Linked DNA regions of Homo sapiens: region 2 is linked to region 1. Evidence: fine-mapped expression QTL. Tissue or cell type: unexposed skin. Region 1 holds a variant in brackets; the other region holds the start of a gene. All regions are shown on one strand. Distances are from middle to middle.

The links. PIP is the estimated chance that this variant, and not a neighbour inherited with it, causes the effect.
Region 2: it holds the start of TM4SF1-AS1, and the variant in region 1 is the best candidate, but not a certain one, in a credible set for the expression of TM4SF1-AS1 in unexposed skin (GTEx, PIP 0.66).

Annotation. Positions count from the first base shown.
Region 1 is chr3:149,383,633-149,389,012 of GRCh38, reverse strand. TM4SF1-AS1 (TM4SF1 antisense RNA 1) reads right to left here. Exons shown (of 2, transcript NR_109810.1): 2 at 2,430-2,641. Among named protein-coding and RNA genes, the nearest start is that of TM4SF1-AS1, 8.5 kb to the right of the region's middle. RefSeq lists an enhancer at 1,046-2,245. The variant G/T (reference allele first, on the strand shown) is at 2,281.
Region 2 is chr3:149,374,337-149,379,716 of GRCh38, reverse strand. TM4SF1-AS1 (TM4SF1 antisense RNA 1) reads right to left here and starts at 1,939. Exons shown (of 2, transcript NR_109810.1): 1 at 1,402-1,939. It overlaps TM4SF1 (transmembrane 4 L six family member 1), which reads left to right and starts at 2,068. Exons shown (of 5, transcript NM_014220.3): 1 at 2,068-2,346; 2 at 3,948-4,037; 3 at 4,129-4,274. The coding sequence starts at 2,170.

The DNA of each region.
Region 1 (5,380 bases):
AGCTGGGGACAGAGACCAACACCCCTCTCAGCCAGGAGCATGTCTCTAATATGTAAACTAACCAGACCAGATCCTTATCTCTTCTATTTGGCTATACACACAAGAGGTAACCCTTCTCTGCTTTAGTCATTCCAAGGCCAGGTACCAGGCAACTAGGGGACACCTCTATGGCTTAGAGCCTATGGAAAGTATTCAAACCTAAACAGTTCATCTTGCCCTGCTTTTCACATGACCATGGGCCTGGATCTCCTCTCACTCCTGCCCCTCTGCCTCCTGGCCACCCCAGAGCTTTCCCCCAAGGCCCTTTGTGGTGTCCTGTGCCTCTTGTCTTTAGGATCTGTGAGTACAGTAAACTGTGTTTTCCTGAGCCTCCTTATATGTCCTCTTGTGACCTCACCTGAATGATCATCTCATGAAAGAACACAGAACACCAGCACAAAATATTCCATAATCATCTCATATTGTTGTTTCAGCCCTGATATCAGCCACCACTTCTCCGAAGTCCAAAGTGCCTTCATTCCTTTCATTGGAGAACCATATTTAGAAACCAATATCTAGGCACTACGTGTATTTTACCTATAATGGTATTAACACTCGTGGTAATACTTGTTCTCTTCAGACCAGTTCCTCCAGGTTGGAGGCAACACCGTACAGTGATTAAGAGGCTCTGGATCTAGACTGCCTGAATTAAAATTCTGGCCACGCTGGACAATCTGTGAAGCCTTGGGAAAGGCACTTAAGCTCTTACAGTTTTATACCCTGTGTGATAGTGTTTACGATAGCACCTACCTCAGAAGGTTGCTGTGGAACGTAGTAAGATATGAGTGTGACGCTCTTAGACTCATGCCTGACATTCAGGGATTACTCAGTAAATATTTGTTGGGTGAATGATCCTTATGTTGATCAGAAGCTCTAACTGAAGAATGAAAATGAGGGGGAAATCTTGCTCCACGTCCTTTTCAGACAATAATTAACGTATTGATTTGTCAGAGATCTCATCCTCCTGTGAGACTATCTTCCTTTAAGACTTTAAGAATTCCCTGTAATAATCTTTTTAGTTGTCTTTAATGTATTGACAACCTAGAAGAAATCCCTGTAAAATGTCACATATGTGATCTAGAAGGAAAAAAAATGCTTTCCACTTACACTTGTTTATGTTCTTCCTTCTTCTTCATTAAAAAAATAGAAAAGAACTCACACAAGCCTGGTGCCAAACCTGGATGTGTCTCTGTGTCCAGGACTCTGATTCCTAAAAACATCGAGTCATTATAGAAGACATCAGGACCACTGAGAAGACAGTCAGGAAATCAGAGGGGGAGAAGGTCAAGAAGGACGAGGCCCTGCAATCCTTTTTATTCCCCTGGTGTCCTCAGGATGGTGAATAAGAACTCTAGGAACCTGCACCTGCAAAAGAAGATCCAGGGCAATGTAGAGATTCCACATCCTGAGCTTTCTTTGATGTCTTCTTGCCAGCTATCCCCAATTCCTGATTTAGTTCCTCTTAGGGACAGCTATTCTGAAGGGTCTCATCAGAGAAGCTTATTTGGTTTCTATTGGACAAGGAATACATGCATTATAAACATTCCAGATAATGTTTATGTTTCAAATTGGTTTTTCAGTTCCTTTGCAATTCTTGCTCAAGTTTTCCTCACCTTCTAAGTCTGAAAAAGTAATTTCCAAATCATGGTGAAGGCATTATTGAAAAATCAGGACCTTGTAGAATCTTACAGTCATTTGGCCAGGCTAACGGTTTAACCTGAAAGTGGAATGGATTTCCCATCCGGGTTCCCATAGTGAACAACTATGTTTTTGTAACATAACACAATGAAGGGAGTTGTCACTAGATGACTCAGCTAGTTAGAATCTCAACTCCCTTTCTGGGGAGGAAATCTGAAGCACGGTGTTTGTATTAGAGGCTAGGGTCATGCTTATTTGGACTTCAGTTCTCCCGCATCAAAGCCAGTCAGAGACTATGAACAGGTAGGGGGAAGGAAGGTCAACTGTCCACCTGGGCCAGAAGAGCAAGAAGTGTAGCCAAACCAAATCTGACATTTTTTTGGGTGTCTGTCTTTCTAACACATATGCTCACTCGTTCTGTCTCTCTCTCTCTCTCTCTCTCACACACACACACACACACACACGTTTCAACTCTCCACTGCTGTAAAGCTGTTCTTGGTAAAATTCCCTAGGGCAAAATCAACTGTAACTTGAGTTTTCAACTCACTTAGTATCAGTGGGAAATTTGCCATGTTGGACTTTGACAACCACAAAAACCAGTTT[G/T]ACTGAGAGTGGCGAGGCCATGAGGTCTAGGTGGAGTATGAACTCACCAACTTGGAATGATTACTTGGAGAATGCTCACACTGCCTCTTATTTATGCTTCTGTCCAAGTCTTTGAGAGTGCTGAAGTCATAGAAATGACCAAACAAATATATAGTACGACACTTTTTAATTCAGAACTCAACCACAAAAAAAATGCTCCTCTGTCACCAGGGATCCCTGGAAAATGGTGTCTAAAAATCAGCTCTGAGCAAACCATCCTCAGTTCTTGTCCTTGTGGCATCTTCAACTCCCAACTGATGGAAATCTCACTGGTCTGAACTTCAAATGGTATGAAAGCAGGAGTGGAGAGTTTCACCCCAACCTTTCTGCAAAAAAGCAAGCATATTTTATATAAGGTCAAAAGGCCATGTGAGGCAGGAGAATAGAGACTGGAGGCAGGGAACCTAAGGCTTTTCACACTGACTTCCTAGAACTAAATTGAAAGGAAAACCCTAACTTTCCATGCCTCAGTAACAGAAGGACCAGAGGCTACTCCCTTTGACCTTTTCTGCGTGGCAGTTGGGAAGTTGTCTGTAAGCGACAAATCAGACTTATTGCTGGTAGAGACTTTGTTTGCAATTTAGTAACTTCACTCCAGACTCTGAATGGTCTGACTGTGGCTCTGATCAGACTGATTGTGGACGGAGTCTTCAGTTTGCATAGAAGTATAACTTTGTAACTTCACCCTACCCTCTGATTGGTTGCTTTTTGCAACCAATCAGATGTTTGCACAGGAGTGTGACCTTTGTAACTTCACTTCATCCTCTGGTTGGCTGCTTTCTGCAAGCAATCAGACTGATTGCGGGCTACCACTTCATTTACATGAGGTAAGCATGAAGTGGCCAATGAGAAACTTCCAGGGGTATTTGGACCCAAGAAGATTCTGTATTTGGGCCCTTGAGCTGGTGCTCGGGCCCACTTCCACACTGTGGAGTGTACTTTCATTTTCAATAAATCCCTGCTTTTGTTCTTTTGTTGCTCCATTCTTTGCTTTGCTGGGCGTTTTGTCCAATTCTTTGTTCAAAACGCCAAGAACCTGGACAACTTGCAATCATGACCAGTGACACAGGTAGGGAAATCCTTTTACAAGTTAGACCAGGGTAAAGGAAATGAAAATAGGCCCTATTATTTCTCTCCTCTACTGAATCTAGACAATTCTTTTAAAAACTTTTCATTGCACACATCTCTTGTTTGTTGATAGTTCTATTTTGCTACAGTAAAACCAAGTTTGTAGAACAGGAGCTGTAGCTTTAATTTTGAGACATCAGGTTAACCTTGAAATCATTCATCGAATTAAAGTAGAATCCAAGTGATTAATGTCTCAAAATTGTGTTATTTAGAAGTGCCAAAGAAACAGTCCCCGAATCTGATCAACATTGTAGTAAAATCAGCCCAGTGTGTGAAGGAAAGAGCATGGGTATGTGAGTCAGGGAGACTTGCGTAGGAGGAATCCAGGCCTAATTACTCGCCAGCCTTGTGACTTTGGCCTGCATGCTTAACCCAGATGAGCTTCAGTTTCCTCACCTGTAAACAGCTTTGCACAACGGAGCTGTAAAGTTAAATGACGGCATCAGAGTGACTTGCATGTGCCCACTCTCCTTCTGCTCCACGCTCCTCTTCCCCTGAATGCACAGAAACTGGATACGTATTACCCAGGAACCCTGAACAGTTTTTGTCATTCTCCCCAAAGGCAGCTGTGATCTGTGGAAGGAGGCCAGCAGGAGAGAACTTGCTACTTTTCCCAGGGAGGACCTGGTCTCCCATCAGACAGAGAGAGGAGCTGCAAGTGGCCTGCTACTTCTCCTGCCTCACAAAGAGAACCACTTGGTGAACCGGGTTCAAAAGGTGCAAACACATGAATTCATCAGTTTAAAGTTTTTAGGGTTTTTTTTTTTTATTTTAATCAATGGTTTTTCTTCTCAACTGAAATGAACCTTGCTGGACTTGCGTAGCCTCATGTATAAAACTAGAAAGTTGGGCCACCTACATCAGTGGACTTCAACTCTGCTTGGGCACTGGAGTCATTTGGAGGACTTACTTAAAATGCAGATTCCTGGCCTCACCCACAGACATTCTGTTTCCCTTGGGCTGAATCAGGGTGTGTCGTTTTAGAAAACCATAGACCGTTTTCTGTTGAAAATCAAATGGTCTTTGAAGCCCTCCACATCTCACATGCCAGGCTCTAATTATTCAACCCAAGGAAATGATACTCAAATCAGAACATGAGAGTCCTTTCCCCTTCAAGTATTTATGCACTAGTTGCCCTAGGTGCCCTGGATGCCTTCAGCTCACCCATTCAAGAGGAAGTCACACCAGCCCTTCTGGGTAGCTAGCCCTCAGGAAGGGAGACCCAGAGCCACATCTTGAGCTTCAGACCACAGGGCAGGCACCCCAGGAGGTGTCTTGTCTGAAAATGGTAACTGAGACCTGGGAGAGTTCTTGGCTTAATGAGCCATCAGCTGAGCAATGTTGAACTAAAATTACCAGATAAAGATGGGGAATTGGTGATTAATTCTGGTTTAATTGGGCCAACAGAGCTTATTTTTTAGCCCAAGAATAACTTGAGCTACAACCTAAAGTGAAGGGAAAGCCAGGAAGCTGTGTGTAAGGTGGTTTTACACTACTCCCTGCCTCTGCATCTCTTTACTGTGGTTGTCTGCCTTGATTATGGTTCCAAATAAAGGACAGAAACTGGCTTCCCTGCCTGGTCCCACACTCACCTTTTCCTGAGAATGACTTCTCCTGCATGTACCTGGTTGCAGGGATGGCTCCCAGCAGCCATGTTTATGCAGGCCCCACAGGCATGGGCACCTGACCCCACAGGCATGGGCACCTGGCCTGGTCTTGTCCAATGCATGTCCCTTCTCTCACAATCTGGACTTGGGATGAATCTCTTGAACTGAAAAAACTATAAACTTCAGAACTGTCAGTAGCCATATTTTTTGTGTGTGAACTGAGAACCAGAGACAATGAGACTGCACTAAGAAGAATAAAGTATATGGATAGAAAGAGTCAAAAATGCAAAATGTGGAGTATGACATTCCGAATTTCCAGACCTTTG
Region 2 (5,380 bases), 9.3 kb after region 1:
CAAAGTGCTGGGATTACAGGCGTGAGCCACTGCGCCTGGCCGCAAGACACCTTCTTTACAAGGCAACAGGAAAGACAATCATCAAGAGAAGGGGGAAGAGCTCCGTATAAAACTGTCAGATCTCATGAGAACTCACTCACTATCACAAGAACAGCATGGGGGAAACTGCTGCCATGATTCAGTTCCCTCCCCCCAGTCTCTCACTTGACACGTGAGGATTATGGGGATTACAATTCAAGATGAGATTTGGGTGGGGACACAAAGCCTAACCATATCAGTAGTTTAAGCATCACTTTCCCCCATTTTGGCCCCAGGTGGGATAGATCAGCAGACAGGAGGGTTGCAATGATTATGCTTCAACAAAGGATGCCGTCATTCACCCATAGGCTCTGTCACCAGTGGAATCCTGTCTCTAAGCCATCGGGCCAAACACACGTTCCCTGTTGTTGGACACATAGTGGTGACCCAATGACACTCTTATGAGGATTTGCCTGCCTCCGCCTGAGCAGGTGGGTGGTTCCACGCTTCCCAACTCCACTGATTTATTTCCTCAGGCCATCCTGGATTCTGGCTTCACCCCTGTTAGTGTGCTGAGGCCACACTTCTTGGGCCCTCCTCCGGTCCCATGCCACATCACTAACCACAGCTGGTCTCCTCAAATTTGGTATGTGTCCCGCCCTCTAGTTCCGGGCCAAATCCTTCAGACTCTAGATTCGTGAACCTCATTCACCTTCTTCTTCTAAGCTAATGCCTCCCTACCTTGGTCCTTTTCTATTTTCTGTACTCTCTATCTTGTCCTGGTGACAAGGCCCTCCAGGCCTGGCCCCACCCGGCCACCCTGTCCACCTCCCACCACCATCCACTGGCTGGTGCAATCTGCTGTTCAAGGCATAAATTTATTCAGTGCCCAGCCCCTCCTTCTGCAAGGTAACCACCTAGAAAGTTAGTCTAACACCCTTTCTCTGCCCTGTGTGGGGAGCCTGTGGAAGCTGGTCTCAGGATCTGGCTGGGTAAACCATCTGTTTACCTCTGTGTGGGTTCTGACACTCCTAGCCAGTTCTGTTTCTCTGAACCTTGTTTCTCCACTCTGCTTGCCAAGTCCCTTTGTCTTATTTTTTTCTCCCTCTCCCTCCTTCCTTCCCTCCCCCCATCCTTCCTTCCTTTTTTCCTTCCTTCCTTCCTCCCTCCCTCCCTTCCTCCCTTTTTCCCTCTCTCCTTCTCTCCCTCCTTCTCTTCTTTCCTTCCTCTCTTCCTTCCTCCTTTCCTCTTTCCTTCTCTCCCATTCTCTTCCTCCCCCTCTCTTCTTCCTCTTTTTATTTTTGTCCCATGCTTTAGGCCTTCCTTGGCCCTTCCTGGCATTGCTTTTCCTGACAGCAACACTCAATAATTTTTAAAAAGCACCTGAGCCCTTTGTGTTGACTGATGCCACCTCTGTTGTGGTGCAGATTTGTTTTAGAGGCAGATGTCCAGGGACGCTGAACACTGAAATCCATCCTGCAGAGCTTGCTGTAGGCAGAGTAAAGAAGTTTGCTCTGTAGTTTTCCCAACAGCCTTCTCAAATCCATGGGAGACGTCTCAGACACCTTGTATTTAATAGACAAGGAAATGAGCTCAGGAGATTTGCCCCAGGTTGTAAATTAAATCAGCACAAAGGTAGAAATGAACACAGAGCTCTCAGATTGGAAGCTGTCCAGACAGCTGCATGGAGCAGGGGCACAGCTCACTGTCTTTCAAAGCCTCAACCAGGGCTGTTGCATCTCGGACACTTGGCAGTTACTGGAAAGTCATGTTAGGCTTTCCTGTTGATTCTTTATCTTGTGGAGGAGTTGCACAGTCAATGCCTTGTTCAAGATTAATCATTTTCCCTGTTGCCTATGACTGAGGCTGTTTCTCACATCCTGCCCCTGGTTTTGCCTGTCCCAAGGATTTCGTCTGAAGGGCGGGACATTCCCCCTGCCTCTTCGCACCACAGCCAGAGCCTGCCATTAGGACCAATGAAAGCAAAGTACCTCATCCCCTCAGTGACTAAGAATCGCAGTATTTAAGAGGTAGCAGGAATGGGCTGAGAGTGGTGTTTGCTTTCTCCACCAGAAGGGCACACTTTCATCTAATTTGGGGTATCACTGAGCTGAAGACAAAGAGAAGGGGGAGAAAACCTAGCAGACCACCATGTGCTATGGGAAGTGTGCACGATGCATCGGACATTCTCTGGTGGGGCTCGCCCTCCTGTGCATCGCGGCTAATATTTTGCTTTACTTTCCCAATGGGGAAACAAAGTATGCCTCCGAAAACCACCTCAGCCGCTTCGTGTGGTTCTTTTCTGGCATCGTAGGAGGTGGCCTGCTGGTAAGTCATTCAGGATTATTACTGAATTCTCTCCTGTTTCCTAGATGTTTTCATTATGTATTTTCATGGAAAGTTTTTTGTAATGCATATTTCTAAATCAAGTGACTTTTTTGTTGCTGTTCATTCCTTTGAAAGCAGATTATACAAAAGCGAGATTGGTACAGTATAGCGTAGTAATTTTATGAGATGTTGTTTTACAAAATGCTCTTTCAACTAAAAGTGAACTGCCTTTTTGCTAAACTCTATAGGTAGGAAACAGATATTCGCTTTTAAATCAGATTTGAGAGACTATAGAGTTTCTACTAGAACGGGCAGTCATTTAACATTTGCTCTGGGGAGCCGGAAGGGGTTGGCTGGTTCTCTGCCTAAATCAACAGTTTTGAATCCAAATTCTCTGCTGTTTATTTTCAGCCATCTGTGATAGGGAAAAATAATGAATTGTGAGTGCATTGCTATTTTAAAAGAACTCTAAGCTTTCTCCTTTATGTAAGGCTGGGGTGTGGCGTCTAGGAAAAACCCTACAGTTAGCAGCAGGTCGGTGTCTGAAGCTAATAGTGGAATGTGTTATTTTTTCCAAGAATTGTTTTTGATTGAAGTGAGAGGAATTTCCCTGCCAACCTGGGAGCTGAAAGCATTAGCTTCAACCACAGCATGGAAAGAATGTGAGCAAACTTAAGTTTGCTACTTTAAAGTGCTGGGATTAAAAATTTTAAGGAGAAATTTTATGGAATGGTACCATACGTGATAAATTTTCTTAATCAAGTAAAAGATAGTAAAACATTTAAACCTAATACACTGATTATGGCATGGCAAATCTGCCCTAAATTATTTATTTAATGAGATTTTATTTAATTTTATTTTATTTAATGAGACGGGGTTTCGCCATGTTGCCCAGGCTGGTCTTGAACTCATGGGCCCAAGTGACCCTCCTACCTTGGCCTCCCAAAGTGCTGGGATTACAGGCATGAGCCACAGTGCCCGTCTGCCTCAAATTTAAGCATTATTATCATGTTAACATGATTATTTGTCTTAAACATAACATCACACTTAAGTTTCTTTCGATCTTGAACCTGAAGTATTTCATATTTACTATATTTTAAGAGCTTAATATTGTTAAGTTAAAACTATGCATTTGTATAATCAAGGAAGCAGTTAATATTTATTATATATAGCTTTCATGTCTCCCATTTACAAAAAAGTTTCAGTTATTCTATTAAAGATTTGTTGGTATATTCTGCATTTTACAAGTGGAAAAAATCAGATTTAAAGAAAGGGTTTAATATTTCCAAAACAGAGTTTGTTATCTGGGGTCGTGTGATAAACTCTTGTGGAATAAACACGTTTACAGTTTATTATTTTACTCCTCCCATGTTACATCCTCACCCTAAAAAATGCTTTGACAGATTACATGAAAACAAGCAGATATGACATTTAAATGGTCTTTTTCTCCTCAGAGGTTTACATTCTTTGAGATATCTGGTCAACCTAATCAAAGCCAGTTAATGTCATTGGAAATAAATATATTTTACCAAGAGATGCCTAACCTGACCCATATGAGCCTGAGCAAGACAATGACCTGACTTTGTTTGTTTCCTAACCAGATGCTCCTGCCAGCATTTGTCTTCATTGGGCTGGAACAGGATGACTGCTGTGGCTGCTGTGGCCATGAAAACTGTGGCAAACGATGTGCGGTAGGTCCTCCTGCCCTGGTGGTGAAAATGACTCCTAAGATGTAGCTGTGGCACTCTGTGGCTCACTTCCTGTGTGTCTGCTTTTCCCTAGATGCTTTCTTCTGTATTGGCTGCTCTCATTGGAATTGCAGGATCTGGCTACTGTGTCATTGTGGCAGCCCTTGGCTTAGCAGAAGGACCACTATGTCTTGATTCCCTCGGCCAGTGGAACTACACCTTTGCCAGCACTGAGGGCCAGTATGTAATTACTCTCTACATGGCTACACATTTTTATCCACCACATGTATATAGTGGCAGCTCTATCAAACCAGATAGGCATCCACTTATCCATCCATCCACCCACCTAGCCAGTGTTTATTCTCACTGACTCAGGCATGGTTTAGGCAATAGGTATCCAAGGATGGATCCCCAGTCCCCGACCTAAACAAATTCTAAATGCTTCTTTTCTTTTCTTTCTTTCTTTTTTTTTCCCCCAGAGACAGGGTCTTGATCTGTCACCCAGGCTAGAATGCAGTGGCACAATCATAGCTTACTGCAGCCTCTAACTCCTGAGCTCAAGCAATACCCCTTCCTCAGCTTCCCAAATACAGAGTGCTTTTGAATAGATTCAATAATTCAGTCCTTATAATAACCCTATGAAGTGACTTCCTATTTTAAAGATGAGGAAACAAAATCACAGAGAGATGGAGTAATTCATCCAAGGTCACGTTGCCAGAAAGTGGCAGTTAGCATTTGAACCCAGGCAGTCTAGATGTAGAGTTTGTGTTCATATAGTGCATCTCAATTACTTCATACATTATACCAGAACAATTGCCTGATTAAGTGTAATACATTTTACTACTTTATAAGAAAGTATTATAGAATCCATATATAATAAGAATGGCAACTATATGAATTTAACCCAAGCCCAGGGCAAACCATGCCCTTACCCCTGTGTATACATGCACTCATATAAAACATACACATACATACACTCATATAAAACATACAAACTATGTACAATGCCCCCTTTTTTAGTTATTAAGCTATATAAGTAAGGCCTATTCACAATCATAATATCAGGATAATTTGTGCTGTTCTACCATTCTATGTTGATACTTATTTTTTTTATCAGTTATCCAGAAAAGAACAGAAACAGCACAGCTGATAGAAACGGATGTATGTGGTGATGAATGGATGACATGTTTCTTTGAGCAGGAGTTGATTCTGAGTTTCCCTTTTCCCTACTCAACTTTCTGAAGTTGAATTTTGAAAGGTTTAGTTTTGAGATTCATGATTAAAAATAATATTAATAACAAATTATATTATCAAGAATGTTTGACCCCATGAATTTAAAGCATGTA